Homo sapiens: one gene and its partners. The protein of the gene in region 1 interacts with the protein of each later gene in a pairwise test. Each region holds a gene or a part of one and is shown in the gene's direction. Other genes may lie near its edges.

Region 1 (6,720 bases):
AAGGTTCAATACTATTAAGGTAAAGTTGTCCCAAATTGATCTGTAGATTCAATGCAATTCCTATCAAAATCTCAGAAGGCTCCTTTTCCTTTTTAGAACTTGGCAAAGTAATTTTAGGTTTTATATATGAAATCCAAATAAACCAGAATAGCTGAAAGTATTTTTGAAAAATAAGAACTAAGTTGTAAAACTTACACTTCCTGATTACAAAACTTTATTATAAAGCTACAGCAATTGAGACAGTTATACTGACACAAAGACAAGTATAATGACCAATGCAACTAAGTTGAGAGTACAGAAATAAGCCTTTATGTCTATTGTCGTTAACTTCTCACAAAGATGCCTAGGCACTTCAGTGTGGGAGAGGATAGTCTTTTTGATGAATGGTGCTGGGACAGTTGGATATCCACATGCAAAAAGACGAAGTTACCGCATCCAAACTCAAAAGAGTCAGAAACCTAAATGTAATAGCTAAAACTATAAATGTTTCAAAATAAAACATGGGAGAAAAATCTATGATATCTTGGGACAGGCAAAGAATTTAGACATGGCATCAAAAGCATGATTTATTAAAGATATAAATAGGACTTTATCGCAATTCAAAACCTTTGGGCACTTAGAAAGACACCATTAAGAAATGAAAAGAGTCAGGTGTCAGGTGGGTGTTTTGTTAAAATAATAAGAAAATGAAAAGAGAAGTGATAGACTTGGAAAAAAATTTGTAAATCACATACCTGGTGTAAGATTTGTATTTAGAACATGCAAAGAATTCTATAACTCAATAAGAAGACAATCTAATTTTAAAATGGGCAAAACATCTCAATATTTTACCAATGAAAGCACATGAAGAGCGGATAAGTGCATGCAGAGATACTCAACATCATTAGTCATTAGAGAAATGTAAATGACACTGCAAGATACTACTAAATACCCATTGGAATGTCTATAATAATTTAAAAACACAGATGATAACAAATATTGACAAGGATGTGGAGAAATGAGAATGTTTATACGTTGCTGGTGGGATGTAAAATGGCACATCTACTTCTCCACTTTGAGAACATTTGGCAGTATCTTTTTTAAAAAGCTAAAGATAGATTTTTCTATACAACCTAGCAATTTCACTTTATTATCTACCCAAGAGAAATGAAAATATATGTTCACACACAGACTTCTTCACAAAGGCTCATAGCAGAATTTCTTTATAATAGCCAAGGAGTAGAAACAACTCAAAATGTCCATCAATTGGTGAATGATAAACAAAATTTGGTATCATATAATATTATTCAACAATAAAAAGGTGAACTACTGATACAGGCTACATTATGGATGAACCTCAATTACATTACACTAAGTGAAAGAAGCCAGATGCAAAACGCTACATATTGGGTGATTCTATTTATATGAAATGTCCAAAAAATGCGCAGTTATAGAGACCAAGAGCAAATTAATGGTTGCCTGGGGCTGGAGATGGGAGTAAAGACTGACTACAAATGAAGATAATTGGTATTTTTGGCATGATGCAAATACTCTATAACTTGATTTTGGTGATGGATATACAACTCCATAAAAGTCACTAAATTGTGTACTTCAGATGGTACCTTTTATTATGCAAATTAGATTTCAATAAAACTGTTACAAATTGTGCCTGCGGACTCCACTAGTGTTGGTGTGTATACCCAAGGCTCCTGGGAAGCAGCTTTTTTTTCTAACCTTTCGTACAGCAGTAAGCAAGAGAATTCCCTATAGATTCAGAGGGCTCACTAGGGCTAATTTAAATCTGGTAATTTATGGGCCTGATGGGGCAACCTAGGTCTTGGATGTTAGTCAAGTATTTTGAAAGAATGCCAGCAGTAGGCCGGGCGTGGTGGCTCACGCCTGTGATCCCAGCACTTTGGGAGGCCGAGGTGGGCGGATTACCTGAGGTCGGGAGTTCGAGACCAGCCTGACCAACACGGAGAAACACCGTCTCTACTAAAAATACAAAATTAGCCGGGTGCGGTGGCACATGCCTGTAATCCCAGCTACTAGGGAGGCTGAGGCAGGAGAATCGCTTGAACCTGGGAGGTGGAGGTTGCGGTGAGCTGAGATTGTGCCATTGCACTCCAGCCTGGGCAACAAGAGTGAAACTCCATCTCAAATAAAAAAAAAAAAGTTCCAGCAGTGCCAAGGCAGTTGAATCACATGGTTTGTCATCCCATTTTTCTCACCTAGACTTTCAGTCTTGGTGTGCTGGCCCTGATGGTCTGTGTGGCAAAGCCAGTTTCAAAGGCTTACAGTGCTGCCTGAAGACAGTATCTGGTCCTCAAGATGCATGGAGGCCATCTCTACTGCAGATTTCCTTGGGGTCCAGGCCTCCCATTATGTTGGCCATTCCAGCCCCACAGCAGAGGTTCCTCTGGAGATGGACATCTAGATTGGCCAGTTCTTCTCATTCTTCAAACATTCTGAAGTTCTTTTCCTCCTGAAAATCTTCCCTCTGATTATTTTTTTCTTTAACCTTTACTCCATCTGGAAATAAAATGCCCCTAAGTGTGATATGAGGTATCAGAAGAACATGGCTTTGGAGACAACAATACGGTTTAAATTCCAACTCACCTCACTAGCCATGTGACTTTTGGGCAAGTTTCTTAGCTCCTCTGAGCCTTGTATTTAGAAATCTGTAGAATGGAGAGAATCATACCCATCACAAAGGGTTATTGTGAAGATGAAACAAGATCATGTATGGAAAGACTTGAGCACAATTGACCGACATGTAGTTGGTATTCCCTAACTGTTAGAACCAGAGAGTAGAGTGGGTCAGATCGTGGGCTCTGGGTCTGAATTTGCATTTGTGCTTTTCCACTTCTAGCCAAGTGAGCTGGGACAAATTCCCTCATTTTCTGTATATCTGTTTCTGCATCTATAAAACTGGCATTAATAGTACCCACCTTATTAGGACAGTCTGAAGATTAAGTGAGTTAATATATACAGCACTTAGAATACTGCCTGTTATGTAATAAGTTTTATATAAGTGGCAGCCACTGTTCTCTCACCACCCAATACAATGCCCTATTCCCTTGGAGCAGCATATTTGATTTATGTGGATTACATGTGAGGATTACAGGGACACAGTGGGCTGTCACTCCACAGACGACCAGGTAGGCCTGGTTCATCTGGCTGGTGGCCCACCAGTGGTGGGTTGTGAATTTTCTATCTCACTACATCACATGCATCTTCTCACTCCTTCCATGCTGATTCAGAGAAAGTACCTTCTCCACAGAAGAAAGGAAGTGTTGTCAGAGTAAGCTAGTGGTTGAACTTTTCTGCAGGAATGGATTCCCTGGATCCTCTCACGACCATGGACCCTCTAAGATCCCTGCATGCAGTATTGTGGGGTGTGATGAGAGCTCCTGTAGATTTGTCTCTTCTGCCTGCAAGTACCATAAAGTTGACACATCAGGTGTTTGAATGAAGTGGTAGCAGGGATGTGCTCTGTTCTTTCTTTGTCTCAAAGAACACTTCATCGGAGACTGCCTTAAGACCTTGGGGCTCTGTAGAATATATGCAAGTTGGTTGACTTGATTTATTATTAATTACCTCTTCTGCTTTAATTTCAGCTGATTATTTGCCTTGGAACCAACCAAGGCGAGAGCCACTTCGTCTGGAACACAAATACCAGCCGGCATCAGTCAGGTTTGATAACAGAACCACACACCAGGACGATTACCCCATAAAAGGCCTTGTGAAGACCATAAGCTGTAAACCTCTGGCCATGCCAAAGCTCTGTAACATCCCCTTGGAGGATGTGACTAACTACAAGATGAGCTATGTGGCCCACCCCGTGGAGAAGCGCTTTGTGCATGAAGCAGAGAAGTTCAGGCCCTGTGAAATCCCCTTTGAAAGCCTTACCACTCAAAAACAATCCTACCGGGGCCTGATGGGGGAGCCTGCCAAGAGCTTGAAACCTCTAGCCAGGCCTCCTGGGCTAGACATGCCTTTCTGTAACACCACTGAGTTTCGAGATAAGTACCAAGCTTGGCCAATGCCCCGGATGTTCTCCAAAGCTCCCATCACCTACGTCCCTCCCGAAGACAGGATGGATCTTCTGACAACAGTGCAGGCCCATTACACATGCCCTAAGGGTGCCCCAGCTCAGTCCTGCCGACCTGCACTTCAGATTAAGAAGTGCGGTCGCTTTGAAGGCTCTTCCACCACCAAGGATGACTACAAGCAGTGGTCCAGCATGCGCACAGAGCCAGTCAAGCCCGTTCCCCAGCTGGACTTGCCCACCGAGCCCCTGGACTGCCTGACCACCACTCGGGCCCACTATGTGCCCCACCTGCCTATCAATACCAAAAGCTGTAAGCCTCATTGGTCTGGCCCTCGAGGAAATGTCCCTGTGGAAAGCCAGACCACCTACACCATCAGCTTTACTCCCAAGGAAATGGGCAGGTGCCTAGCTTCATATCCTGAGCCTCCTGGCTACACCTTTGAGGAAGTGGATGCTTTGGGTCACAGGATATACAAACCAGTTTCCCAGGCAGGCTCTCAGCAGAGCAGCCATCTTTCTGTAGATGATTCAGAAAACCCCAACCAGAGGGAGTTGGAAGTGTTAGCCTGATTTTGAAAAATAGTAATTTAGAAATTACACAGTACTTTTAAAAGCAGACAACTGAGAATTATTTGTTGGACAAAAAAGAATTCCCTAAAATGACAAAAAACAAAAAACAAAAAACCTTCACCACTTCCAGAGCACTTGAATAAAATGAGAATCACTTGACTCAGGGAAAATGACATTTAATCACCGGCTAATTAACTCCCCTTACCTTCTCCTTTACTGCATCCCCACCCCGTTTCAGGTCCTTTACTTTGTGCTTATGGAATCAAAGTTGGTCTGTGAGGGTTTCTCTGATCCAGATGTATTTTATTAATTTAATCATTGTATGAACTGACATAATGATTAACCCTTGCCAAGTATGAAGCGCCAAAGAATAAATTTTATTTTGGGGGGAATGAATCTGTAGGCTGGCTATGCAGAGAGTAGTCCGTATTGCTTGGGACCTTTGGGAGATTTTATACTAGCACCCCCATTGTGTATCAGTATTGGTGGAGGTGCCTTGGGCCTGGTCTGGAGTCTTGTTTTGGGTTCTCTCTGTGCAGGGCTGCTTCACAAAGCATCCTTCTACCTCTTCACTGCATGACATACCAGCAAGAATAGTGCTGTTCGATGGGGTGTGGATCTCTTTAGTCACAGGTGATGGAGGGAAAGAAAGAGGGAGGCAGTGATGCATGAACCTACCAGACCTCTCCCCAACCCCAAGCTGGTACAGGCTATGATTCCAGGGAGAGGAGGGAGAAAAAGCACCCTTGGCAACCAGGCAGTCGACGCCTGGTCCTTGAGCTGTGAGCAAAAGCTGTGGGCTCTTCTAAATGCTCAGAGCCTGGAAGAAATTTCCCCAGGCTGGCCTGGTTTCTGGAGAGCCTGGATGTGCTTGTCCTAAAATGACAGCTGTGACCAGACCTGTGACAAAGTTTAACATAGTGGTGAGCCACATTCCGCCCTGGAGTTTCTCTCCTGAGCCTAAGGTTTTTACCACGTTTGTTTCTAAGGCCAAGTAATTTAAAGTTATCTTATTTATATTTTTTTAACTGAGCAAAATTGAGGAGGGACTTTGTTAAAGAGGGTCCGATACAGCCAATTAACTTGCAGATTTTTTTTTTTAACTGGGCAGAATTGAGGAAAGACTTTGTGCCAGTTAGGTGAGCTCATGGGTCTGGGTGAGCCTCACAGAGGGACGTAGACTTAAGTCTGGGACACTTGCCTCTCTCGAGTTCACAGAATCCTGAAATGTACTCCATGGTCTCAGGGAACTTGGGAGTAGCATGGAGAAGGTGGGGGGAGTTCAGCTCATGTCTAAAGCCTTGGGCTTGGGCTCAGGGCCTGGTGGAGGGACCAGGGGCCTGTTCCTTTCTATCTAGGGCTCTGTCTTTCCATGGCTCTCACCCACCTGACCCAGGCTTCGCAGGTCCCCACACCTTGCATCCTCACCATGAGCTTTGTTTTCATTGTTGGGTTGGGATCTATGTTATTTAATCCTCTCATTGGTTTGTATGGGGTCTGAGTGCCTGCCCTTAGGGGTAGAAAGGCTCAGAGTGGTTAAGCACCTTTCCCAAGGCCATACAGCACGGAGCAGCAGAGCCAAGGTCAGAATCCAGGTTTTCTGACCCATGGCTCTTCCACAACACCAGGCGCCTCCCATCTTCTGTGTCTCAGATCTCCTGGCTCCACAAACCACATCAAACCACCTTCTGTCTGAGCCTACTGGAGTTCATTAAGCTAAAGGATTACACTAAGAAGGGTAGGTTTTATTATTACTACTTTTTTTTTTTTAACAAATCAAAAAAATATTGGCACTTCATTTGAAAAGCCAAATAGTGCTAAAATGCTTGTAAAAATACAGCAATCTCTTATGTCCCAGCTGCTTAGCCTTCCCCCATTGATATTTCCCCAGAGAGAACAGTTTTAAATTATCTATTTTGCTAATACTTCTATTCACATTCCTAAATAATATGCATATACTGCTATGTGCTGATTCATCAACTTTAGACATGCTTTGTTTTGGCAGATTTCTCTCCTCTCAGTATAATTATATGACAGTGTTTGGTAACATCAAGGCTAATAAGCTTTCCTAATTTTATCAATTGACAGGAAGGGAAGAAGCTGAAGGATGGGATTGA
Region 2 (6,168 bases), on another chromosome or scaffold:
ATGGGTGCAGAGACAGGGACTGAGCCGAGCCTGGATGGGTGCCCTCCCCCACCCCCACTCCCGTCTCCTCCAGGTCATTCAAATGGGGTGAATCGGACCCGCTGCCTTACGTGGTGTATGGCCACACAGTGCTCTCCCACATGGACCTTGTCTACGTAATTGGCGGCAAAGGCAGTGACAGGTGAGGCTGGGCCTGGAGTGAGTCTGTGGAGCAGAGGTAGAATCTCCCAGAGGCTGTCAGGGGTTTGTCCTGGCTGCCCCGGCAGGTGATTGCAGGGAGGCGTGGCTGGGCTCCTGCTTCTCTCCACCCATCCCCACCCTCCACCCCACAGGAAGTGCCTGAACAAGATGTGCGTCTATGACCCCAAGAAGTTTGAGTGGAAGGAGCTGGCACCCATGCAGACCGCCCGCTCACTCTTTGGGGCCACTGTCCATGATGGCCGCATTATCGTGGCAGCTGGGGTCACCGACACAGGGCTGACCAGTTCTGCCGAAGTGTACAGCATCACAGACAACAAGTATGAAAGCTTGTCCCTTCCGCCAAGGACAACTGCATGGCTTTGGGCTTCTGTCAGCCCCAGCAGGAGCTGCAGTCCCTGTCTTGGGTCTCCAGTGTTGACTTTGGACATCAGTATAGAAATAGGCTTTCTCTCCTGATCAGCAGTGAGGTGGGGAGGCGGGGCAAGGGTTATGGCCAGCCTGGTCTGCAGGAGGGGGCTCCCAGGGCTGGGGGAGGGGATGCCAGGTTCCTCATTCAGGGACTCATACCAGGCAATGGCCTGGTGCAAGGGATATAGCAGTGAACAAGACAGAAGCTGCCCTGCCTGGGACATCAGAAAAGAGAAAACTGAACTGAGAGACAGTTGGACTCAGCTCGCAAAAGGGGTGAGGGTGGTGGGAGGAGGTTGCCCCAGACTAAGGAAAGGTGGTGCTGAGGCAGTTTGGAGAAAAAACTCAAGGCCTATAGGAGGGAAGGTGTTGCTCCAGCTGGGTGGAGGTGGGTGGGTGATGGAGTTGGGATGGCGGTGCTGGGGCTGGAGCGGGGGCCAGCAGGAGAGGGACTGTATCTCATCTGTGTTCTACTAAAGTACTTCATGGCAACTGATATAGAGAGCAGATTAGGGATTTCCCAGGGGTCAGGAAGGTCAGGGGTGATAAAGGCCTGGAGCTGGGGGCACAGCGGAGATGGGGTTGAGGGGATGCACCGGACAAAGACAGGCCAGGGCTTCTTACACTGTGATGGGCATGCAAATCTCCTGGGGATCGCCTTAAAGTGCAGATTCTGATTCTCGGTATGCGGAGGGCTGAAAGCCTGTAAGTCTGCATTTCTAACGCACCCCCAGGAGATGCTGACGCTGCTGGGCCATGAACCACACTTTGAGTAGCAAGAGTCTAGGAGGTGGGAGAAACAGGGCTTAGCTATTGATTGGATGTGGGGGTGAGAGGGGGAGAAGTACATGCTTCTGAGTGAGGGTGGGAGGCCATTTACTGGATAATCATTGGGATTGGGTAGGGAAAGTGAGGGTCCAGTTAGGACATGTGGACTTGAAGTACCTGGGGGTGTCCAAAAGGACCCCACCCGGGAGAGAGAGGGCTGAGCTGGAGGGAGAGATCTGGGGGTCAGTAGCACACGGAGGGGCCAAGCTCCCTCAGGAGAGAGAGTGTAAATGGGAGGAGCTGAGGTCCAAGCCCTGATGGTGGAGGCAGCTGCATTATCCAGGAAGGAGGCCACGAAGGTGAGGCCGAAGAGATGGGTGAGGAAAGTCACGTCAGCAGGGCTGTGTGCTGTAGGACCTCAGTGCGTGTGCAGTGACTGTGGACCTCAGGAAGGTCAGTTTTGGAGGATGGGACTAAGGCCCAAGGCAGGAGCCAGGGTAGCGAAGATACATTGAGAACAACTGGGCTGTGAAGGGAGAAGAAGGATAGAGCAGGTGTGCAAGGTGGGTGGGGCTGCAGGGGCCGCTGAGGGGCAAAAGGACTGCGTCCAGGGCAAGGCTGGGGGCCTGCTAGGGGCTGGGGTTGTGAGTTGGAGGGTGGAGTTAGTTCAGGAGAGGAGTAGGGGCAGTGGGGAGATCCATGGTGGACTTTGCTGGACAGGTTGGATAGAATGGCAAGAGGACAAGGAAAGGAAAGTGGAGGAGCAAGAGAATGGGGAAGGAAGGGAAGACCAGAGGGACAGGGAAGGGGAATGGGGTTGGGGGCATGGGTGCCTGGGACTTGGATTGCAAAGGGTTGCAGTTGGAGCTGTGGGTGCTGGGTGGCAGGGACAGTCACTGGGCTTGCCGAGGCATCCCAATGATGCACCTTCTCACACACCCCCAGGTGGGCACCCTTCGAGGCCTTCCCACAGGAGCGTAGCTCACTCAGCCTGGTCAGCCTGGTGGGTACCCTCTATGCCATTGGTGGCTTTGCCACACTGGAGACGGAGTCTGGAGAGCTGGTTCCCACAGAGCTCAATGACATCTGGAGGTGAGTCCCACCCTGGGGAGGCAAGGGGGCATCATGAGCAAGGCTGACACCCCATAGCACCATGGTGGGGTACCAAGGCACTGGGCAAGCTCCTCTGGGGGCAAAGCGGATCCCTCTTCTAGGGAGTCCTGTAGGGAGGAATAGCCAACATACCCTGCTTGGCCGTTTCTCACCAGTTTGTTGGGAAAGTCTGGGCTTGCACAGATGACACCATGCCCCACTGTGGAGCAGCAACAGTGTTGCAGATGGGAGCAGACCCAAGCTTAGGTCATAGACTCACAGAAACAGGGCCCAAATAGCAGCCGGATTTTCTTCTCTCCTGCCTTCCGGGTGCTTGGTCTGGAGGGAGGGCTGCCACTAGGGCTGGGAAACAGTTGGAGCCCTGGCCTTTCAGAACCATTGCTCTCTATGGCTGGTCCTTTGTGGGGGTGGGAGAAGGAAACTTTAGCCTCTGGGGCATCTCCTTCCTGAACCTGCAGCCATCTGCACTGCTGCAGGCAGCCCCTGGGGAGCAGTGCTGCCGGAGGCTGAGACGTGAGACTTAGTAGAAATGGAGCATGGAAATTCTCAAGGAGAGGACATTGATGGGGTGGTGTGGGCAGTGTAGACCTTCCTGGAGGGGAACTTTGAGGAATATGGGAACACCCCTTGAGAGGTGATCTTTCCTGGGGAGAAAGACCCTTCCTGGAGTGTGGGGTGGGTGTTCCTTGGGGTGGGTCTTGTGGGGGGTCTCCTTTCCCAGAGCCTGGGGATTTTCAGGAGCAGATCTCCCTAGAGATGGGCCAAGTGCCCTCAGCCACCCCTCTCTGCTGCGTTCCACTCTGGACTCAGCTGACCAAGCTCTCCATCCTTGTCCCCACTCTCTCTCATCCCCAGGTATAACGAGGAGGAGAAGAAATGGGAGGGTGTCCTGCGGGAGATCGCCTATGCAGCAGGTGCCACCTTCCTACCAGTGCGGCTCAATGTGCTGTGCCTGACTAAGATGTGACCAGCTCAGGCAGACTGAACTAAGCACCCCTCCCATCCTGCGACCCTCACTGGCCTGGCCTTGTGGGGGCTCCAGAAAAGAGGCTAGGAGAGGCCAGAGTCTACCTGGATCCAGTTATGGTGCCTCAGGGGCTGCGTCAGCCAAGGAAAGGGAAGTGCTGCTTAGTCCTGGACTTTTGGGCAAGGGTGAGAAACTAGAGGCTTCTCCAGTGTTGCCATATCCCCCTAGGTTGTCTTGATCCATGAACCAGAACCACAGGGCGGTATCCCAGGCCGTGTGCTGGCCCTGCCCCAGCCTAGCTGAGTGTGCTGGCAAAGTTCCCCACAGGACTCAGCCTTCTCGTCTGTCCGATGGGAGCATCCCCATCAAGTGCAGTGTACAGTGCAGATATGTCTCCTTCTTTAGGAAGAATAAAGTGCCTTCTGAGCAAGCAGCTCAGGGTCTGCATCAGTGCTCCAAGAGTCAGTGAGCAGGTGTGTTGAAGACTTGGGGCTTCAGTGTTCTGCTGTTGGGCTGCCAAGGTCGATGGTCTCTGCTCTCCATCTGGTGTCCCCTCCACCCTATGGGTGGGAACCCTCCCCTGCCTGAGGCCTAGAGCCTCCAGCTCCTCAGCCACTATGGACGTGGAGCCAGGGGACTGTGGGAAGAAGGGTCAGGGAACAGCCAAGCTGTTGTAGAAAAGTCTTTTATTCTATCGGTCAGGCCCCATCTGGCCCAAGAATAGCTGAGCAGAGCCCATCCCTCTACCCGCTCCCTCCTACTCCGGCTTCTCTTTGTCCTGCTTCTGCTCCTCCTCCAGTGCCAAGGTTCGCTCACGCTCCTTTACCAGCTGGACGCCACAGTAGGTGACAAACAGGATGGACAGCGTGGTCTGGGGGAACCCTGTGTGGGGAGGGAGTCATAGATGCTCAGGAGCAGCACTGCATCCTCAGCGACTTTTGTCTTCCCACCCCTCTCCCCGCTTGATGGGCCCTCCCTTCTGAGTCCCAGGGGTGATGAGGGAGATAGGAGGCATTTTGGAAGGTCACGGTCCTTGAGGCTGATGCCTGGCACCTTCTGTATCCCCACACCCCTGTCCCTCACCTGTGAGTAGCAGGCGCCGGGCAACCAGCTCTGTGAATTTGAGGCTGTTCAGGCTCACAAGGTTGTACATGATGATGGCCCAGAAGTTCATGGCTCCAAACAGGGCCCGGACCCTACGGGACATCTGCACTGACAGAGAGGCCTATCCGGTCCAGGAAAGCATGGGCAGCGGGACAAGAGGCCAAAGGAAAGAGGACATGGTGGGTCAGCAGCCTTACCCACCTGGCCAGTCAGGTCTTGGGGCTATGTCTGGGTCTCGGAGAGCCCCAGGTCAGCTCTCCCTCCTTGTTAAACATGGGGAAACAGGTCCAGAGAGAGGACAAGGCCTGACCAACATGGCAAGGCCCAGGTGCTCCATTCCTCATAGAAGGGAGGGAGGGGCAGATTCCTACAGAGTGAGCCATTGCTCTGACAACTAAGAGGGTGGTGGTGAGAAAGTTCTGGATTAGGGGCCAGGTGTTTGGACAACTCCAGAAAGCAGCAGTGCCCCCCCGCCCTCTATGACCCAGCCAGTCCCAGCCCCAGGTCTTCCCTGCTCACCTCAATTCGTGCTAGGGGCCCCCACTCTGCCAGTTTTTGCATCCAGAGCTCAAAGTTGAGGCCAAAGCAGTTAAGGAATGACCACAGGTAGACAATGTCACAAGGCCCAAGCCACAGTGTGGTGATGGCAAATGTGGCCACTGTGGCTGCCAGCTCTGGGATCACAGCGGAATGCTCCCCACCAATGTGGTTATACACATATCTGCAGGAAAGATGGGAGAAGGGCCACTGGGAGTGTGGGAAAGGGCAGGGATGAGATGGGAGAGGACACACAACAGGGCGTCCTCCTCAACACTGTCACCCTGGGTGCATTCAACATTCCTGACCTCACGTAGCAGCTCCTCCTCCAACCAACTTCAAATTGTGGCAGGCTCAGCCTGGGACATTATAGCTTCTCTATCTCTGTTCGTTTACTTCCCAAATGATCTCATCCAGACCCAAGATTTCAAGTACTAGCTCTATGACGATGACCCCTAAATCTGTGTCTTTAGCCCAGTCTCTCCTGATTTGTATATGCAATTGCTACTAGCCATGTCACTTGATTGACAGATTCCCCTATCCCTGCTCAAACCCAGCTCCGTCCTCATCTCAGTGAATGGCACCACCATCCATTCAGTTGCTCAGGGTATAAGCCTTGGTGCCATCTTGGATTCTCAGTTTGCCTCATCACCCACATCCAAGCAAGCCAGCAAATTCTGTTGGCTCCTCTCAGTCCTGACCACCACTCACCTCCTCTACCACCACCACCCTAGTCAAGATGATCACTCTTCTCACATAAATTATTGCAAGAGCCTCTTAAGTGGTCTTCTTGTTTCTGCTTTTGCCCCCATGGTTCATTCTCCACACAGCAGCCAGAGGCATCTTTTAAGAGTGTAGCTCAGGTCACATCACTTCCATGATTAACCTCTCTGAATAGCTCCCCATTACAATAGGAATAAACTCAGTCTCTTTACTCTGGCTAGAAGATCCCAAGTGGTCTGGTTTCTGTTCCCTTCCTGACCAAATCAGCCACCATGCTCCCCCAGTTCATCATGCTGGCCTCACTGGCCTTTCTTACCTTTACACCCACACAGTTGGTTTGTGTCTCA
Region 3 (8,660 bases), on another chromosome or scaffold:
ATCTGCCTGGTTGAACTGGTGGAATCGAATTAGTAAGTTTGTGTAATAGTTGGCTGTTTCTAACTGTGGCATTAAGACTTGTTTAATGTTCTTCATAAAGGATTAATGAGTTCAGACTTTTAAAATAGGTAGCCCAGTAAGGAATCAGAGTTTAGGCCAGAAGATCAGGACATCTAATCCTAATTCTGCCTGAAGACTTGCTCTGTGACCTGGGGCAAGACACTTCACTCAATTCCTCAAAAACACCCCCTGTAAAATGATGATAGAGATCACCCACCTACCTCACAGGGTTGTTGTGAGGATAAGTAGTAAGTTAACAGAAAGTTTCTGACTCGTAAAGTACTTAAGAATAATTATATACATACATACACTGAAAGGCTTAGTCGAGAGGAACCTTTTTGAAACAAATCCTAACAAATTTTGAGGGACTAAACTTGTAGTATTTTTTTTTATCTTTGCCATTAGTTGACTTGTAAAATTGGGAAAAGCTTTTTATAGTGTCTTTAGTACATACTTTGCACCAAGTTGGTATAACAATGTACATTTTGTGATTAATTTAGCACCATTTGTTGATGCCCATTGCGTAAGCGTCATAGAACAAAACCTGTCTTAATAGGTTAAGGACTTTAATGTAGATTGTGAATACATATGCAGGTGAACCTGTTTGATATATTCCTATGAGGATTTTGTTGTTTTTCCCTGACATGAGTATTTCCTTCTAGGTAGTTGTCCTGGGAACCCCTGCAGAAGAAGATGGTGGTGGCAAAATTGATTTAATTGAAGCAGGGGCTTTTACAAATCTTGATGTTGTTTTTATGGCCCACCCATCACAAGAGAATGCTGCTTATCTACCAGATATGGCTGAACATGAGTGAGTAATCAAGTTGAAGATAAACTTCTTAGGGGAACACAGGCTATAGAATACTTTTATGTCTAAACCAGAGACGAAAACTCCACATTTGTATATTTAAGAAGTAAATTGAAAGACAATAACAAGATGTCTTGATCTATGGAGTGACATTTGGCAAGCCTCTTCTAATTGAGATTCATTATGGTGTTCATAATTGGAGTATTAAAATAGTAGCACTTAGAAACCATAGGAATAACAAACATGTTGACAATTAAGTTCTCTTTTGAACTGTCAATAATCTGGTGTCTGGAAAACATCTGTCCTTTCATATGAAATTGTCTTTGCAACTGAATAGATTTGCGAGAGATCGTTCTATTAGCTATGGGAAGAAACCACACTTATCCATTTTATTTACTTTAATTTGAGTTCTTTGCAAAGAGGATAAATTATGTCCTGAGAGAGAATATGGAACATGAGTAGCTATGGTTTTTGTGGAACTTCTCATTCTGTGCTTTTCCGATTTGTCTGGTGCTGAAACCTTTTATTTGTCTTTCTTTATGTTGAAGAACTCACTTTTTAGTACCTAGGAGCACACATCATTGAAGTGGTTTGGATTTTTTATACCAGAAATTTCAACCATAGTAGTAACTATAGTAGTTAATGGTCCAGGCACAAGGAGCCAGTGCTCAGCTGCTTCAGCAAAACCATGTGTTTTCCTCAGAAGTAGCTCGGTACTGAGGGAATGATAGCAGAACCATCACAGCAGTGCTTCTAGATTGTACCCGGGTATCCCACCTCTTAGCACCTTACCAGGCCCTGTTTTCAAAGGGTGATCATTTTAACTATTAGGGTATCTTCCTTCTTATCACTGGAAATTGGTACTGTGGCAGTAGGAGGAATCTTTGAACTTTGGTTTCAAGGGTGGTGGTAAACTAGTCCATCTCTAGAAAACACTGGGGATTAGAAATCTCTGCCCTTGCCTTTGACTAGAAGGGGCCTGCATATGCAGGCAGGCTCTGCAGCTCATTACCCTTCTGGGACTTAAGGTTAGGCTTCGTGGTCTTGGTTCTGAAGTCAGCGCACTTGACCCCAGACCTTCTCCTAGTATCTGCCTTCTTAGCTTTCTCACTGATCATCTCTTTTTTTTTTTTTTTTTTTTTTTTTTGAGGCTGAGTCTCACTCAATTGCTCAGACTGGAGTGCAGTGGCACGATCTTGGCTCACTGCAACCTCCGCATCCCAGGTTCAAGTGATTCTCCTTCCTCAGCCTCCTGAGTAGCTGGGATTACAGGCGTGCGCCACCACGCCCAGCTAATTTTCATATTTTTAGTAGAGACAGGGTTTCACCGTATTGGTCAGGCTGGTCTTGAACTCCTAACCTCAAGTGATTCACCCACCTCGGCCTCCCAAAGTGCTGGGGTTACAGGCATGAGCCATCACACCTGGCCTTCATTGGTCATCTTTTAAGATAGAAAAGAGAGGTCAGGTGCAGTGGCTCACACCTGTAATCCCAGCACTTTGGGAGGCCAAGGCAGGTGGATCACCTGAGGTTAGGAGTTCGAGACCAGCCTGGCCAACTTGGCAAAACCCCATCTCTACTAAAAATACAAAAATTAGCCAGGCATGGTGGGCACCTGTAATCCCAGCTACTTGGGAGGCTGAGCCAGGAGAATTGCATGAACCTGGGAGGCGGAGGTTGCAGTGAGCCAAGATCGTGCCATTGCACTCCAGCCTGGCCACCAGACAAGTGAAACTCCATCTCAAAAAAAAAGAAAAAAAAAAAGAGAACAAGATCAAGAATTCATTTTTTTTTAAATTACTAATCCACTTTTCTTAAAAATTCTTTTTTTTTTTTTTCCGAGAGAGTCTCGTTTTGTCACCCAGGCTAGAGTACAGTGGCGCAATCTCAGCTCACTGCAGCTTCCGCCTCTGGGTTCAAGGGATTCTCCTGCCTCAGCCTCCCATGGACCTGGAATTACAGGCAAGCACCACCACACCCAGCTAATTTTTGTATTTTTAGTAGAGACAGGGTCACCATGTTGGCCAGGCTGGTCTTGAACTCCTGACCTCAAGTGATCCACCCGCCTTGGCCTCCCAAAGGGCTGGAATTACAGGCATGAGCCGCCAGGCCCAACCACAAATTTCTAATGAATAAGATAAAGCAATCCTGCTGACCACCTTTCCCAAATCCAGTCCTTTTTCTAGAGGTATGTATCCTTTTCAGAGTGTTTTTGGTGTACTTATGGGACATAAATAGAATCCTGTATAAATTGTGAAAGAAGGTTTTCCTCAAGTATTCCACTCAATATATTGTTCTGGCTTTTTAAAATTAAATAGTATGTCTTGAAAATAATTCCATATAATCCTTCTCGTTTTTATAATATTTATCACCAGTTGTGATGAAATTCCGGTTTTGCCAGGCCAGGTGGCTCACACCTGTAATCACAGCACTTAGGGACGTCAAGGCAGGAGAGTCTCTTGAGCCCAGGAGTTCATGACCAGCCTGGGCAACATGGTGAGAACCTGTCTCTACAAAAAAAAATAAAAAATTAACTGGGCATGGAGCACTCCTGTGGTCTCAGCTATTCATCTGTGGGAAGCTGAGGCAGAGGAGGATTGCTTGAACTTGGGAGGTGGTGACTGCAGTGAGCTGTGATCACGCCACTGCACTCCAGCCAGGGTGACAGAGGGAGATGAGTACCAAAAAAAAAAAAATTCATTTCAAGGTCATGGTGATAAGATATATATCAAGGAAATAACAATACAGTATCCTGAAATCTAATACGTGTTTGATGTTTTTACTTGATTTTTGTCCTGCTAATAGAATGTCTGGAATCAGTTGAGAAGAAATATCATAAGCATTCTAAGGACTCCTGAATCTAACCCATTAAAATAAGTCCAGATTGGTTTTCTAATCACCTAAATGTGGGTATTATTAATCAGGCTTAAAAAGTGTTATCAAAGCACGTCAATCACAGAGCTTTATAAGTAACTATTCAACACGCAATCCTTTCTCTAATCTTTTTTTTTTTAATTGTATTAGAGCAGTTAGACTGGTGTGAGAACTTAACAGTTTATTAAAATGTAAAATATTAGTGATGTAGGCATTTTGGAACATAATAAAATATTGGATATTGGTCAGGAACAACTGCTTTAATACTAGGGTATCTTGTGATAACATTGAATATAATCTGATTTTCAGAGGTTGTCTTAACCCACTTCAAATAGTAACTCCTTTCTGGCTTTCCTGACCTTCCACCTCTTAAGACAGAATTTCTGATTTTTTACAGACTTTTGATAATAGAATCATCACAATGCTGTGTAAAAACATACAGGATCCATTTTTTTTTTTTGTAATTTCAGCACCTGATACCATATTGCATGTTTGCATTAGATTGTGTATACATTTAATCTTTTCTCTTTTTCTCTCTTTTTTGGGAATGCTTTCTTTGTGTCAAGCACTATGTTACCTAATAATAAACTATAACTAACATAAATAAATTGCAGTGTTATTACTACAAATAATTTGCAAATCAAAAGTCCAGCAATGTGAATTAATTTTGAATAGTAGTTGGGTAATTCTGACTACCTGGATTTTCTTACTTTAGCAATAATAACAAAAGTAATTTCAAATGATTTTTTATTTCCTAGTGTGACTGTGAAATACTATGGAAAAGCATCTCATTCTGCTTCTTATCCCTGGGAAGGATTAAATGCATTAGATGCTGCTGTGCTGGCCTATAACAATCTGTCTGTGTTCAGACAGCAAATGAAACCAACCTGGAGAGTTCATGGTATGAATGTCAAATACCTTCTATAATAGATGGTGCTTGCTATAGTTCAGTGCAGTATAATTATTTAATATTCAATTTTTAAAAATTTGGAAATATTTTTGTACTTCATATGAATATTCTGATTTTTAAGCATATTTTCAGAAATTCATGTGACAGGATACTAAGATGTTTGTCTATATAGGGTTAGAAAGACAGTTTTGATTATTGTACATAAATGGAATGTCATCTTTGAGTATCAAAGATAAAGGTTTTATGTAAGGGGCTGTGTTCTTTCGGTGGGTGTTTGAAAATTGGATCTTGATTTTCCAGTTGTCCTCATTATTTCTTAATGATAACCAAATTTTGTCAATTAAAAAAAGGTATAATAACTGCTAGTTTTATTTAAGTGCTGTTAGTCCTGAGTAATATCTTTTTGTGTGATTTTTTGTTTTTGAGACAGTCTTGCTCTATTGCCCAGGCTGGAGTGCAGTGGTGCAATCTCGGCTCACTGCAACTTCTGCTTCCTGGGTTCAAGTGATGCTCCTGCTTCAGCCTCCCAAATAGCTGGGATTACAGGCAGGCAGACACCACCAAACCCAGCTAATATTTGTATTTTTTGCAGAGACGGGGTCTTGCTATGTTGGCCAGGCTGGTCTCAAACTCCTGGCCTTAAGTGATCTGCCCACCTCAGCCTCCCAAAGTGCTGGGATTACAGGTGTGAGCCACCATGCCTGGTCCTGAATAGTGTCTTTTAAAATTATATATATATATCACCATAATATAAATACAGTCAAAGTACTGTCTTGAAGGCACACATTTGTTTAATTTATTTCCTTATGATTTAGGAAATTGTTATATTTTAATATCTATTCTTTACCTGATTTTGCTATAGCCTGAGGTCAATTTGTAATTGTACTTTTACCAGTTTTCCTGCTTTAGTTTCTTTAAAAGGAACAAACAGGAATGTGTAGAAATATTTTTTTAAAGTAGGTCATAGGACATTGGATTTTTTGTATCTATTTTAGTTATTACTTCGAATGAATAAATCTTAATTCTTTATAATTCCAAATAAATACATTTGTTTTGACAGTTGATAATACTTAGTGATCTTTGACCTGCATTGGTTTTTTTCTTGGCATGAAAATTATTTTTCCTATAGCTAAATGCCATTTAAAATGCTCATGGGATTCCTGAGGTATGAGGGTAATTATAGAACCTCATACCATTGTTGAGGTATGGTAAAATCTTTTCCAGAAAGCTTAAGATGTTACTAATTTTTTTTGTGGTTATATAATTTCTAAGTTTCATTATAGTCTGGATCATAATTTCTTAACATTATGTAAATTCTTCTGAATGAAGTGCATATGGATAATTATTTTTTCTTATCAGCCAAAAAATATCACCCTATGTAAAGAAATTTCAGTTGTACAACATAACAAAATCTTTGATTGGTGTATTGGTGGAGCTAGTGAGTTTAAATTATTTTTCTTTATGAACATATTGGCTGAAAAACTTAATGGGTGTATTTAAGCTTAAAGAAATGGTCACCAAGCTTAATTCTAGTAATTTGGTTCTTTTTATAGGTATAATAAAAAATGGTGGTGTAAAACCCAATATCATTCCCTCTTATTCTGAATTAATCTATTACTTCCGTGCACCCTCAATGAAAGAACTTCAAGTTTTGACCAAAAAGGCAGAAGATTGCTTCAGAGCTGCAGCTTTGGCTTCAGGGTGCACAGTAAGAACTTTTAAAAGTTAATCTAAGTTACAATCAGAGGTATATATGTGGGCTAGCACTGTTAGATTGAAATCTAACTTGACTCTCTTATTTGGTGACATGTTGAATATGCAAAATGAATTGGCTGAATAGTTAATGTGAAAGTCTTTAATTTTTACACGTTTCATTCCTCAGTGCTTGCAATAGGGAAGATGACAGGTCATCTTACTTATATAGTAATTAGAATAATTCTGATACTTCTATGCTAGAATCCCTGCCTTTTTACAAGTTATATTCTTCCTTGTCGGCAGTTATACTTTTAGAATTGCTATATGTAGTTTCTATAAAGGAAAGTTTATGGCAAAATCAGCAAAAGCTTTTTTTTTTTTTTTTTTTTTTTTTTTGGTGGGGGGACAGGGTGTTGCTCTATTGCCCAGGCTGGAGTTGCAGCGGCACGATCTTGGCTCACTACAACCTCCGCCTTCCAGGCTGAAGCAATCCTCTCACCTCTGCCTCCCACCTCAGCCAGCTGAGTAGCTGGGACTACAGGCACGCACCACCACACGTGGCTAATTTTTTGTATGTTTTTCTGGAGACAGGGTCTCACCATGTTGCCCAGGCTGGTCTCAAACTCCTGAGCTCAAGTGATCCACCCACCTCGGCCTTCTAAAGTGCTGGGATTATAGGCATGAACCACCTCGCCCAGCCAGCGAAAGCCATTTCTGAAGTTAGGGTGTGTATAGTAGTGATATAAATACTATGGCTTGCTGGAATGGAAGATAAAATAGACACAGAAGTTAGTTAAGAGGTTTTATTGATTTGTTTCTGTTTGTTTGTTTGTTTTTGAGACAAAGTCTTGCTCTATTGCCCAGGCTGGAGCGCAGTGGTGCAATTTTGGCTCAACGCAACCTCCTCTGCCTCCTGGGTTCAAGCGATTCTTATGCCTCAGCCTTCCAAGTAGCTGGGACTACAGGCGCTTGCCACCACACCTGGCTAATTTTTTTTTTTCTTTTTTTTTTTTGAGGCGGAGTCTTGCCCTGTCACCCAGGCTGGAGTGCAATGGCGCAATCTCAGCTCACTGCAACCTCTGCCTCCCAGGTTCAAACAATTCTCCTGCCTCAGCCTCCTGAGTAGCTGGGATTACAGGCGCCTGCCTCCACACCCAGCTATTTTTTTGTATCTTTAGTAGAGACGAGGTTTCATCATGTTGGCCAGGCTGGTCTCGAACTCCTGACCTTGTGATCCACCCACCTCAGCCTCCCAAAGTGCTGGAATTACAGGTGTGAGCCACCACACTGACTGGTTTTGTTGATTTGAACTATAAAGTTAGTATTTAAAATCATGTACTGTGTAAAGTGGAGTGAGTTTTAGAATTATACAAGATAAGAATCTTGCCCTAGAGGGAGCCTGTAGTCTAGTTGGAGAGACAAGATCTTGACCCATAACTCTCAGCCTAGCTAATTCTGTAACCTTTAGAAATGTTTAGTGTCTTTGGCTCTCCATTTTCTTGCTTGAAAAATGGAGATAATAACAATTTATCTTAGGATTCTTGTGAGAATTAAATGAGATAATGTTTCTGAAGGGTTTAGAGCCCAGCCTTCATTTATATTGCCTTATTTTTTTCTGTTCTTATTAGTCTAGAGATGTATGATTGATTCACGTAGTAGCAGTATCTCACAGTAGCAGTAATTCTCAGAAAGCATATGTTACGTGTCCTGAGAGTAGTGTGGAATGTGTCGTGAGGATCAGAGGTGGGAAAGAGTGGTCTGGGGCTGTTAACCTTGGAGGAAGGTTTTGTGGAAGACTGTAGACCTGAACTGAGCTTTGAAGGTTGATCATACTTTCAGATATGCATGGGAAAGACAGAGACTGAAAGTTCTTAGGGAATATAGTCAGCAAAGATAAGAATATAGAAGCTCGTGTTGTGTTGTAGTTAATCGATAAACATATGGACAGATGTAGGAGCAAAGATGTATTCTCATATGCCACTAGAGAAGATGGTTATAGTGAATGAAAACTGTGAAATGTCCATAGCTGAGGGCAGTAAAAACTAAATATTTATTCCCTTATTCATTTATAATTATAAATATTTATTTGTGAAATACTTATGGATGTGAACTATTATCATTAGGCAATATCTCAAGGTATACAGTATTCCCTTATGGTAAGGTTTGTTGTTATTGGATTTGAATCTATATTTAATTTAATTTATTTATTTTTAAAGTTTTTTGTAGAGATAGGCTCTCCCTGTGTTGCCCAGGCTGGTCTCAAACTCCTGGGCTCAAGTGATCCTCGTGCTTTGGCCTCCCAAAGTTCTGGGA
Region 4 (8,660 bases), on another chromosome or scaffold:
GCTCCTCCTGGTCATTGAACTATGTCACGGGATATTTCTCTTTGGAAATTTCTTAAAATCAATGATACTTAATGAAACTCTGATGATCCTTTGTTAATATAAAAATCAGTTCTGTCTACTCCTGTGTTTTACAGCCAATGGGCAGGGTAATTCACAAATTACACCAAAAATAAATATTCGGGGAAAGATGCAGAACTTATACAAAGAGAAAGCTTGCACCTGGGCATGATATTCTTTCAAGTTTTACAGATTCTATCATTAGATTTGTTGGCGCTAGCTCCGGGTCCTCAGCTGTCACTTTGATTTTCTCTGTTGTTCCTCCTTAAGTGAATAGCTTTTTAATATACATCAGATCAATATCCATGTTGTTTCCTAGAACTTCTAGGTGCCCAGCCCTTTTCTGTTTATTAATAGTATCTCCTAGGATCCTTGCCACATTTTCACAAGAGTCACTACTGATACAGGTTGACTATCCCTTCTCTGAAATGCTTGGGATCAGAAGTGATTAAGATTTCAGATTTTTTTGGATTTTGGAATATTTGCATTATACTTATCACTTGAGCATTGGAAATCCACAATCCAAAATGCTTCAGTGAGCATTCCTTTGAGCATCATGTCAGCACTCAAAAGGTTTCAGATTTTGAAGCATTTTGGATTTCAGATTTGGGATTAGGAATACTCAACCTGTATTAAACAAAGCTGGTCCCTGAGGCAACTACTCAGATATTTTTTTATTTGAAAAGTTGCTCTTTATCATTAGATGTTGCTACTGCTTTTCCCAAAAATATCAGAGTCCTCATAACTTTTTTCTGTTAAAATCAAATAATATTTATTGGTATTTATGATTTATGATATATAGGCATATATCATAACTTACACACATATAAGTACCTTAAAATTACCTTAAGTTATTTTAGAAGATATGTATTTGTATCTCACATGTATTTTTGTATTTATTCATTCAGGAATATATTGAGTGCTTGCTATGTACAAAACTGAACATTTGTTTAAACACATAATTGCAGGATCAGATGTCAAGCAACCCAATTTCTAAAAGCCTCACAGAACTAAGTGAAGATTTAACAATTAACCCAGTTCCTCTAAATATATCAATATCTCCTATTTGTTGGAGTAATTTGTAAGCTCAAGTACAACTGAGAATGATAGGGACCTAAAGAATCGTGGCTTAATCAAGAGTGGCTTATTTTCTGTCCTCCCTGTGGTCATCCACAGTACTCAGGAATCCTGGTTCACAATGGCTACTGGATGCAGTAGCAAAAAGTTTTTAAAATAGAGCAAGGGGCCAGGCATGATGGCTCATGCCTGAAATCCCAGTGCTTTGGGAGGCCAAGGCAGGAGGATCACCTGAGGCCAGGAATTCAAGACCAGTCTGGGAAACATAGCCAGACCCTGTATATACAAAAAAAAAAAAAAAAAAATTGGCTGAGCATAGTATCACATGCCTTTAGCTCTAGCTACTCAGGCAGCTGCAGCAGGAGGATCACATGAGCCCAGGAGTTTGAGGCTGCAATAAGCTATAATCGTGCCACTGCACGCCAGCCTGGGTAACAGAAGGAGGCCCTGTCTCTAAAGAAATAAAGAAATAAACCAGAGTACAGTAAGTACCAGCCTTAAAGAAAAAAAGATAAATGACTTTAAAAAGAACTTCTGTTCATCAAAAGATACCAATAAGAGAACAAAAAGGTAAGCCACAAACTGGCTGATGATATTTTTTGCAATGCATATATCTAAGAAAGGTGTTAAATCCAGAGTATGCATAAAAAGCAGGCATGTCTCTAAAAGCAATGCCTAAATAGCCCATAAACATCTCATAAGATGCTCAATATCATCACTCATCAGGGAAATGCAAATTAACAACATGATGAAATGCCATTACCCACCAGAATGGCTAAAATTAAAAAGAATTACAATGCCAAATGCTGGTGAGGACGTGGAGCAACTGGAATACTTATAAATTCCTGGTAGAATTATGTATCGACGCAACCAATTTGGAAACTGACAGTATCTACTAAAGCCGCAAACATGCTCATGCTGTGGCCCAGCATTTCCACTCCTGGGAATATACCCAAGAGAAATGAGTGCATGTTGTTCACCAAATGAGGGGAAGTGGCCAAATGAGGCTTCACAGCAGCACCTTGAATTTTGTCTCCGAAGATGGCAGGTATTCTCTAAGTGCACAGACACTGGGAGCACCATGTAAAGTCATGGAGATACAAACGAGCATGAGGTGTTTGGGAGCATGGTAGTTGTAAACTGCTGGCGCACATGAGTTAGGATTCTAGAAAGACACAAGGCTCAAGGGGTAGGCCGGGTCTTGTAGAGCTTGCCAAGGAGTGAGTTTTGCCAAGGAGCTTGTTCAGGTTTGACTTTCAGAGAGATCACTCAAGAGGTATGCGGGGTGAAGCTAGGGAGGCTAAGTAACTCTTGGCAGGAAGCCACAGGGGGTGCTAATTATCACTTTGCTGCCATTTTACCAATTTGGGGGAATAAGTACTTTTACCCTGAATTATACTACCTGCCATTCTATGCAGAGAATGGAATTGGTATGTTGCTATAACTGATGATTTTCCAGAAAGCCTTACACTTCCATAATAGCGACAGGAAGAGAAGGTAGACAGATGACAATCCAGCAAGCATTTGCTCAACCGCCATCCTGTCTAGCTCAGCATCTCTTTGACAACTTTCAAACTTTCTACCAAAAACATCACTGATTTTACAAAACGTGTACGGGCTTTGTCCATTCTTAGGGTGAACTTTGCCCTTTCCATCCAAATCCTCTTCCTGTACTGACCATTCCAGAAAGACAACACAGGCTTTGCCCATGGCCAGCATCCTTAGTGAGTGTGTGAAAACCACCCAAAGGAAAGGGAAAGGAAAAGCAAAACATGGTATTTTTCTTTAGAGCAAGACTCTGATTTCTCAATGTGAACCCGTTGCCCAATTTTCTTGAGACAGCCCCAAATTTGTATTAGTCCCTGTGTTAAAATGGCCATCACGGGCTCATTACACAGCAGACATTGTCACACTGCTCATGTTTCTGCCAAGGAAAACACAAGAGGAAATGATCTTACTGGGAAAGAGGAGGTGTGAGGCTGAGGGTAAAGTCCCTGACCATGAACAAATCATGAGACTCTGCCAGGGCTCCTGGGGGAGGGGCAGAATCACCTTTACTAGCGATTTAAGAAGAAAAGATTCTTACCAAAAAGATAGCTGCACTCGTATGTTTATCACAGCACTGTCCACAGTAGCAAAGATATGGAATCAACCTAAGTGTCCATCAAGTGGATGACTGGAAAAAAAAATGCGGTATATATAGCATGGAATACTCCTTAACTATAAAAAGGAATGAAATCACATCTTTTACAGCCACATGGTTAGAATTGGAGGTCATTATCTTAAATGAAATAACTCAGAAACAGAAAGTCAAATACCACATGTTCTCATTTAGAAGTGAGACCTAAACAATGGGTACACATGGACATGCAGAGTGGAATAAGAGACACTGGAGCCTCCACAGGGTGGGAGGGTGGGAGGGTGACCAGGGGTGAGGGCTGAAAATTACCTATTGGGTGCGCTGTTCACTATTTGGGTGATGGGTACACTAAAAGCCCAGACCTCATCACTATGCAGTATCTGCACATAAGAAATCTGCACTTGTACTCCCTAAATCTATAAAAAGTAAAAAATTAAAGAGAAAGAATTGGCCGGGCATGGTGGCTCACGCCTGTAATCCCAGCACTTTGGGAGGCCGAGGCGGGTGGACCACGAGGTCAGAAGATTGAGACCATCCTGGCTAACATGGTGAAACCTTGTCTCTACTAAAAATACAAAAAATTAGCCGGGTGTGGTGGCACGTGCCTGTGGTCCCAGCTACTCAGGAGGCTGAGGCAGAAGAATCACTTGAACCCAGCAGGCAGAGGATGCAGTGGGCTGAGATCGCGCCACTGCACTCCATCCTGGCGACAGAGCGAGACTCTGTCTCAAAAAAAGAGAGAAAGGATTCTATCCATGTGCCAGGGTATGAGCCTCTTGACACCCAGATCCTTGAAAAAGATGCTTTGCCTCAGTGGTCCGCCGCAGACCCCTTCGCTTCCCCAGTTGCAAACTGTACTCAAAGGTGCAGGGAAAACTTTTGGATCAGTTACTGAATTCCAATTTTTTGGTGACTTTAGGGACATAGCCAAATTTCCCGGGCTGGTTGCCTTAAGCACATTAATTTATGTGATGCTATTCTGTTCCTTAGATAAAGTTCCTTAAATAGAAAGAAGGGAGCTTCTGGATTCCAGGGAGGCAGCTAGCCTGCACTGCTTCAAAGAGAAAGAAAGGAACGAGTACATCGCTGCTGTCACTTGGAGCAGCTCAGGAGGGCAGCCTCCAAGAGCTGAAAGCCAGGGGGAGGCTTCCATGCGAGGAGGATTCAGGTTCCTGTTTCACTCTAAAAAGGTCCACTGAGGAGGAGTCTCTGGAAACATCTAAAGTAACTCCCTCCCAGCCTCTAGTGTTTCTGGTCAGCAGACAAGCACACAAGGGAGGCCAGAGATGGAACCACCACCAGGGGAACAGCACATAAAGGAGCTCCAACCTTCACAGGTGCGGGTTGTCTTTAAATCCAACAAGACCCCACTTTTAGAAACTGACCCCTCTGCCACTGGACAGAGCCAGAGAATACCACCAGATCCGCCCATATGCAAGCCCTGCAGTCACATCAGCTCCAGGCCTCAGGAGCGATGTGGAGGCTCCTCAAGCACCTGCCTCCTGCTGCCACCCAGGATTTCCTGCCATTATTCACAATGCCATATCAGCCTCAAATTCCGCCCACCCAGCAGGCAGCTCCACTGTGCACGTGGGCACCCTCCAGTGAAAAAGACCGGGTACCATCTCTCTTCAAAGCAGCAGAATGTAGGGTTTGTCTGGATTCCTACCTTCGTCATGTGGTAAAAATAAGAGAATACAGGTAGATTTCTGTTAAACAAGCACAGTCGTGAAAATCTCTGCAAAACTACACAGTGTTCATCCTCCATCAGTTGTGCTTGATTTTAAGCCAAATTGAACAGTGCCCTATTCCCTGACACTGGGAACATTTAGACGTCCCCTGGCATTCCTTGCATGGGAACCTTGACCTTCTGCTCCTCATAAAGCAACCACAAAGGCTTCCTTTTTCAGGCAGATTCGGACTGCAAAATTTTTCACCAAGTGCATGTTCTCAAATAAGACTTTGAAGACAGAAGTTACAAGGTGATGCATACTTATCAAGAAAGAAAATGACATTAGGGCACCCAAAGGAATTGGCCTTTGGAAAAAATAAGATAGACATTTGAATTAATAAACATTGTCCCCCTCCCCCGGAAACAACCTCTGTACCCAAGGACTTCTTTCTCTAATAGCCTCATTTTATTTTCTCTTGACTTATTTTCTCTTTTATTCAGCCAATTCAAATGATTAAGAAAATTGGTTTGTTTCCCCAGCAGCCACCCAGCTGTGACACCTCTTAGGCACATCTGAGCCTTTTGGGGCTGCTCCTTACCCCATCCCAAAGGGGTGACTCTCCATTCCTGCTGGATGCCGAGAGCCCTTGTAGTAAACCCCAGTCAGAACCCTTTTCTTATTGCAGGGATTTGTAAATCAGGTACTATTAATATATACTAAGTCAAGCCAGACCGACTGCCCCCAAACCCATTATTTAATTGAAACCTTGGATGCATAGTAAGGTTGGCCTTGGGTTCTGGCCTGTATGCTTGGACACAGACCAGAGAGAGAATCTGAGAGAAGCAGACCCTGGTGCAAATGCGCATTGGAAGAGAGGTCTCCAGTTCTGCACAACAGAAACGGGTTACTGGTGAGCTGCAGTGAGGGCCAGGGAGGGCTGCTGGACCAGGAGGATAGGCTGGGATATGACAGGGCAAAGCTGCTCATCCAACCCCTGCAGGATCCGCAGGATCAGTCAGCAGGCGGCAGCTCCCTTTCCTGTACACAGTTCCTGAAAGGTAACGTATATAGAGGAATCAGTAGTTACTAGCAACAAGTAGATAAATGCTAACCCCGATAGCCCCTCACTCATGGAGGATTTACTGTCTGGAACCATGGACCACCCCACCCTAAGACTGTGTCCTGGCTATCATGCATATACTAGAATCACACCCCATGTGGATCTGGTCTGAAATTGTCTCTGCATAGCCCATCCTGATCACTTCTGTCCTCTCATCAGTAACATTTACAAACAGTGTCTATCAGGTGAGCACACTGTGATTCTTTGGTTGGAAGGAAAGAAACCCTGCAAGCATTCTTTTTGCATTTTGTGATAATTCTTATCTCCGTTATCCTGCTCAGCCAGGCCCATGTTCTTTTTGCCAGTTTGTTGAGCGCAATGGGCATGTGTGCTTTAAAAAGTATTCTGTATTGTGATAAGGAGCTGAATCTCCTCCTAGCCTCGGAGATGGCTCCTCAGACTGAAAACTCTTTCTGGTGCTCCTCAAAGCTCTGCTACCTCTGTCTTTGCTCTAGAGATTGCAGAACTGGTAATGCTGGTAATGCTTTATTGCCATGACATTGCCAGGAGTTTCCAATGATTGGTAACTGTGTTTCCTGATGCATTTAACAATTCCCATCCTGCACTAATGTGATCTGCCTCTCCCCCCACAGGCACAAAGGGTGCATAAGAAGTTTCCTAAACCTGGCAGAGTACATCATGCCTCCGAGAAGAAACGTCATTCCACTCCTTTGCCGAGCACTGCTGTACCAAGCCATACACCTGGCAGCAGCCAGCAGTCCCCGCTCAACAGTCCTCACCCGGGGCCCATCCGGACAGGCCTGCCTCCTGGGCACCAGCAGGAATTTGCCGGACGAGCCAACAGCACCCCCAACCCTCCCTGGTCTTTCCAGAGAAGCAAGTCCTTGTTTTGTTTGCCCACGGGAGGCCCCTCCCTGGCCTCCTCAGCTGAACCACAGTGGTTTTCAAACACAGGTGCCCCAGGGCACAGGGCATCAGAGTGGAGGCATGGCCACCTCCTCTCCATCGATGACCTAGAGGGGGCCCAGGAGACAGACGTGGACACAGGCCTGCGGCTGTCCTCATCGGACCTGTCTGTGGTCTCTGCATATTCTGCACCCAGTAGGTTCTGCAGCACAGTGGAGACACCCCTCCCCTCCGAAAGATGCAGCAGCCACTGGGCAGCTCACAAGGATTCCAGGGAGGGACCACTGCCCACTGTCAGCAGGGTGACCACAGAGGCCTCCTGGGCTTCCCTCCCTTTCTTCACCAAAAGGTCTTCCAGCTCCTCAGCGACAGCTCGTGCTGCTCCCCCAGCTCCCAGCACCTCCACCCTCACAGACTCCTCCCCACAGCTCCCATGCGATACCCCCAAAGTCAAGCAGACTGATGGAGACATGCCACCACCCCCAGGGTCGGCTGGCCCCGGGGATAACGACATGGAGGAATTCTACATCTGAATGCCCTCTGCTCTTGTTCTCGAAACACACAAACTCAGAGACACAGACTCAGGCCCCACTGCCCCTCTGGCCACTGAGCACACCACATTCTTCATGATCCATTTCCCAGGAGCCCGTAGCACATTTGCCTACCACCCACTCTTAGCTGGGGGGTGGTATATCTCTAGAGACACAGCAGAAAAATACTGGCATTTTTATGCAAATAAATTCTCAACAAACTTGTCATAAAATATATTTTTTGAATATTCAGCATTTGAGGTATGGTTTAGTGGGTTTATACAATTTAAATGGCTTATATAATTATTTGAAATGAAAAGAAAACCTAGTCAGCCAGAACCAATTTGGCAATTTTTCCATGGTATGAAGGCAAATCAATTAAGGCCAAAACGTTGAATGTGGGAGAGATAGTAAGTGACTTGTATGAGGGATTACTGCATAATAACGTAACGCACACCTTACTGGATTCTCCATATATATTTACATTACCAGAGAACAGTGGCCCTAGGGATGTTTAAGCACTGCTTATAATGGAAAAAGTCAGCTTGAGAAGTAAACGTATATCAGACTACAGGTAATTCCTCATCTTGAAGCCATGCAACACCTGCAAATCTGGATTTATACAAAAGTTGCTAATGTGTTTCATAAAGATTTAGCATGAGTAACAGACTCTTGGTGCATTTAAAATATGTGAGTTCCAGAAAGTAGATTTGCATACACCTTTTCAACAGCACATTTCACTGGAATGGATGAGGGGCTTCTGAAGACCACTCCACTACCTGAATTTATTTGGATCACTGAGGAAGAGCATTTGTTGGGATTACAGAATTATAGGCCATTAGACATCATGGGTAGGTAGTCTTAAGATCCTTCAACTTTCAAAAACCACAGTCTAAGGACTATATTCAAATGACAAGAGCCGCACTGTATACTGCTTTCTGCAGTGACCATGCTGGGTCACGCATCCTATGTTTCTCATTTTTAAATGATTTGGAACATTTTAGCCAGCATTTTGATCACACAGATTAATAATGCTGTTCTCCCCAAAACGGGAAACTTTACCTGAAACGCTCTCCTGAACAAACACCAGTGCACTGCCAGCCTCACATGATTGCATGGGAGCTTTAATTAACGCTGGAGCCCAGCAACCTTGGCTTTTCCTGCCTGTTATCTGCTACTGTCACACCGTGAATGGT

The links.
Region 2: the proteins of SAXO1 (region 1) and KLHL40 interact in binary tests that used the Homo sapiens proteins (3 or more experiments, as listed by UniProt).
Region 3: the proteins of SAXO1 (region 1) and PM20D2 interact in binary tests that used the Homo sapiens proteins (3 or more experiments, as listed by UniProt).
Region 4: the proteins of SAXO1 (region 1) and FAM124A interact in binary tests that used the Homo sapiens proteins (3 or more experiments, as listed by UniProt).

What each region holds. Positions count from the first base shown.
Region 1 is NC_000009.12:18,925,935-18,932,654, reverse strand, and holds the end of SAXO1 (stabilizer of axonemal microtubules 1), read left to right. Parts: intron 1-3,599; coding exon 3,600-4,603; 3' UTR 4,604-5,005; downstream 5,006-6,720. UniProt on the Homo sapiens protein: May play a role in the regulation of cilium length. Stabilizes microtubules at low temperature.
Region 2 is NC_000003.12:42,688,537-42,694,704, forward strand, and holds the end of KLHL40 (kelch-like protein 40), read left to right. Parts: intron 1-73; coding exon 74-181; intron 182-332; coding exon 333-518; intron 519-2,322; coding exon 2,323-2,469; intron 2,470-3,345; coding exon 3,346-3,457; 3' UTR 3,458-4,008; downstream 4,009-6,168. Other genes in the region: HHATL (protein-cysteine N-palmitoyltransferase HHAT-like protein), read right to left, coding at 4,215-4,339, 4,541-4,682, 5,081-5,282. UniProt on the Homo sapiens protein: Substrate-specific adapter of a BCR (BTB-CUL3-RBX1) E3 ubiquitin ligase complex that acts as a key regulator of skeletal muscle development.
Region 3 is NC_000006.12:89,148,543-89,157,202, forward strand, and holds part of PM20D2 (xaa-Arg dipeptidase), read left to right. Parts: exon of another isoform or gene 1-722; coding exon 723-871; intron 872-3,243; exon of another isoform or gene 3,244-3,364; intron 3,365-4,500; coding exon 4,501-4,643; exon of another isoform or gene 4,644-4,647; intron 4,648-6,205; coding exon 6,206-6,360; intron 6,361-8,660. UniProt on the Homo sapiens protein: Catalyzes the peptide bond hydrolysis in dipeptides having basic amino acids lysine, ornithine or arginine at C-terminus. Postulated to function in a metabolite repair mechanism by eliminating alternate dipeptide by-products formed during carnosine synthesis.
Region 4 is NC_000013.11:51,273,790-51,282,449, forward strand, and holds part of FAM124A (protein FAM124A), read left to right. Parts: intron 1-6,660; coding exon 6,661-7,467; 3' UTR 7,468-8,660.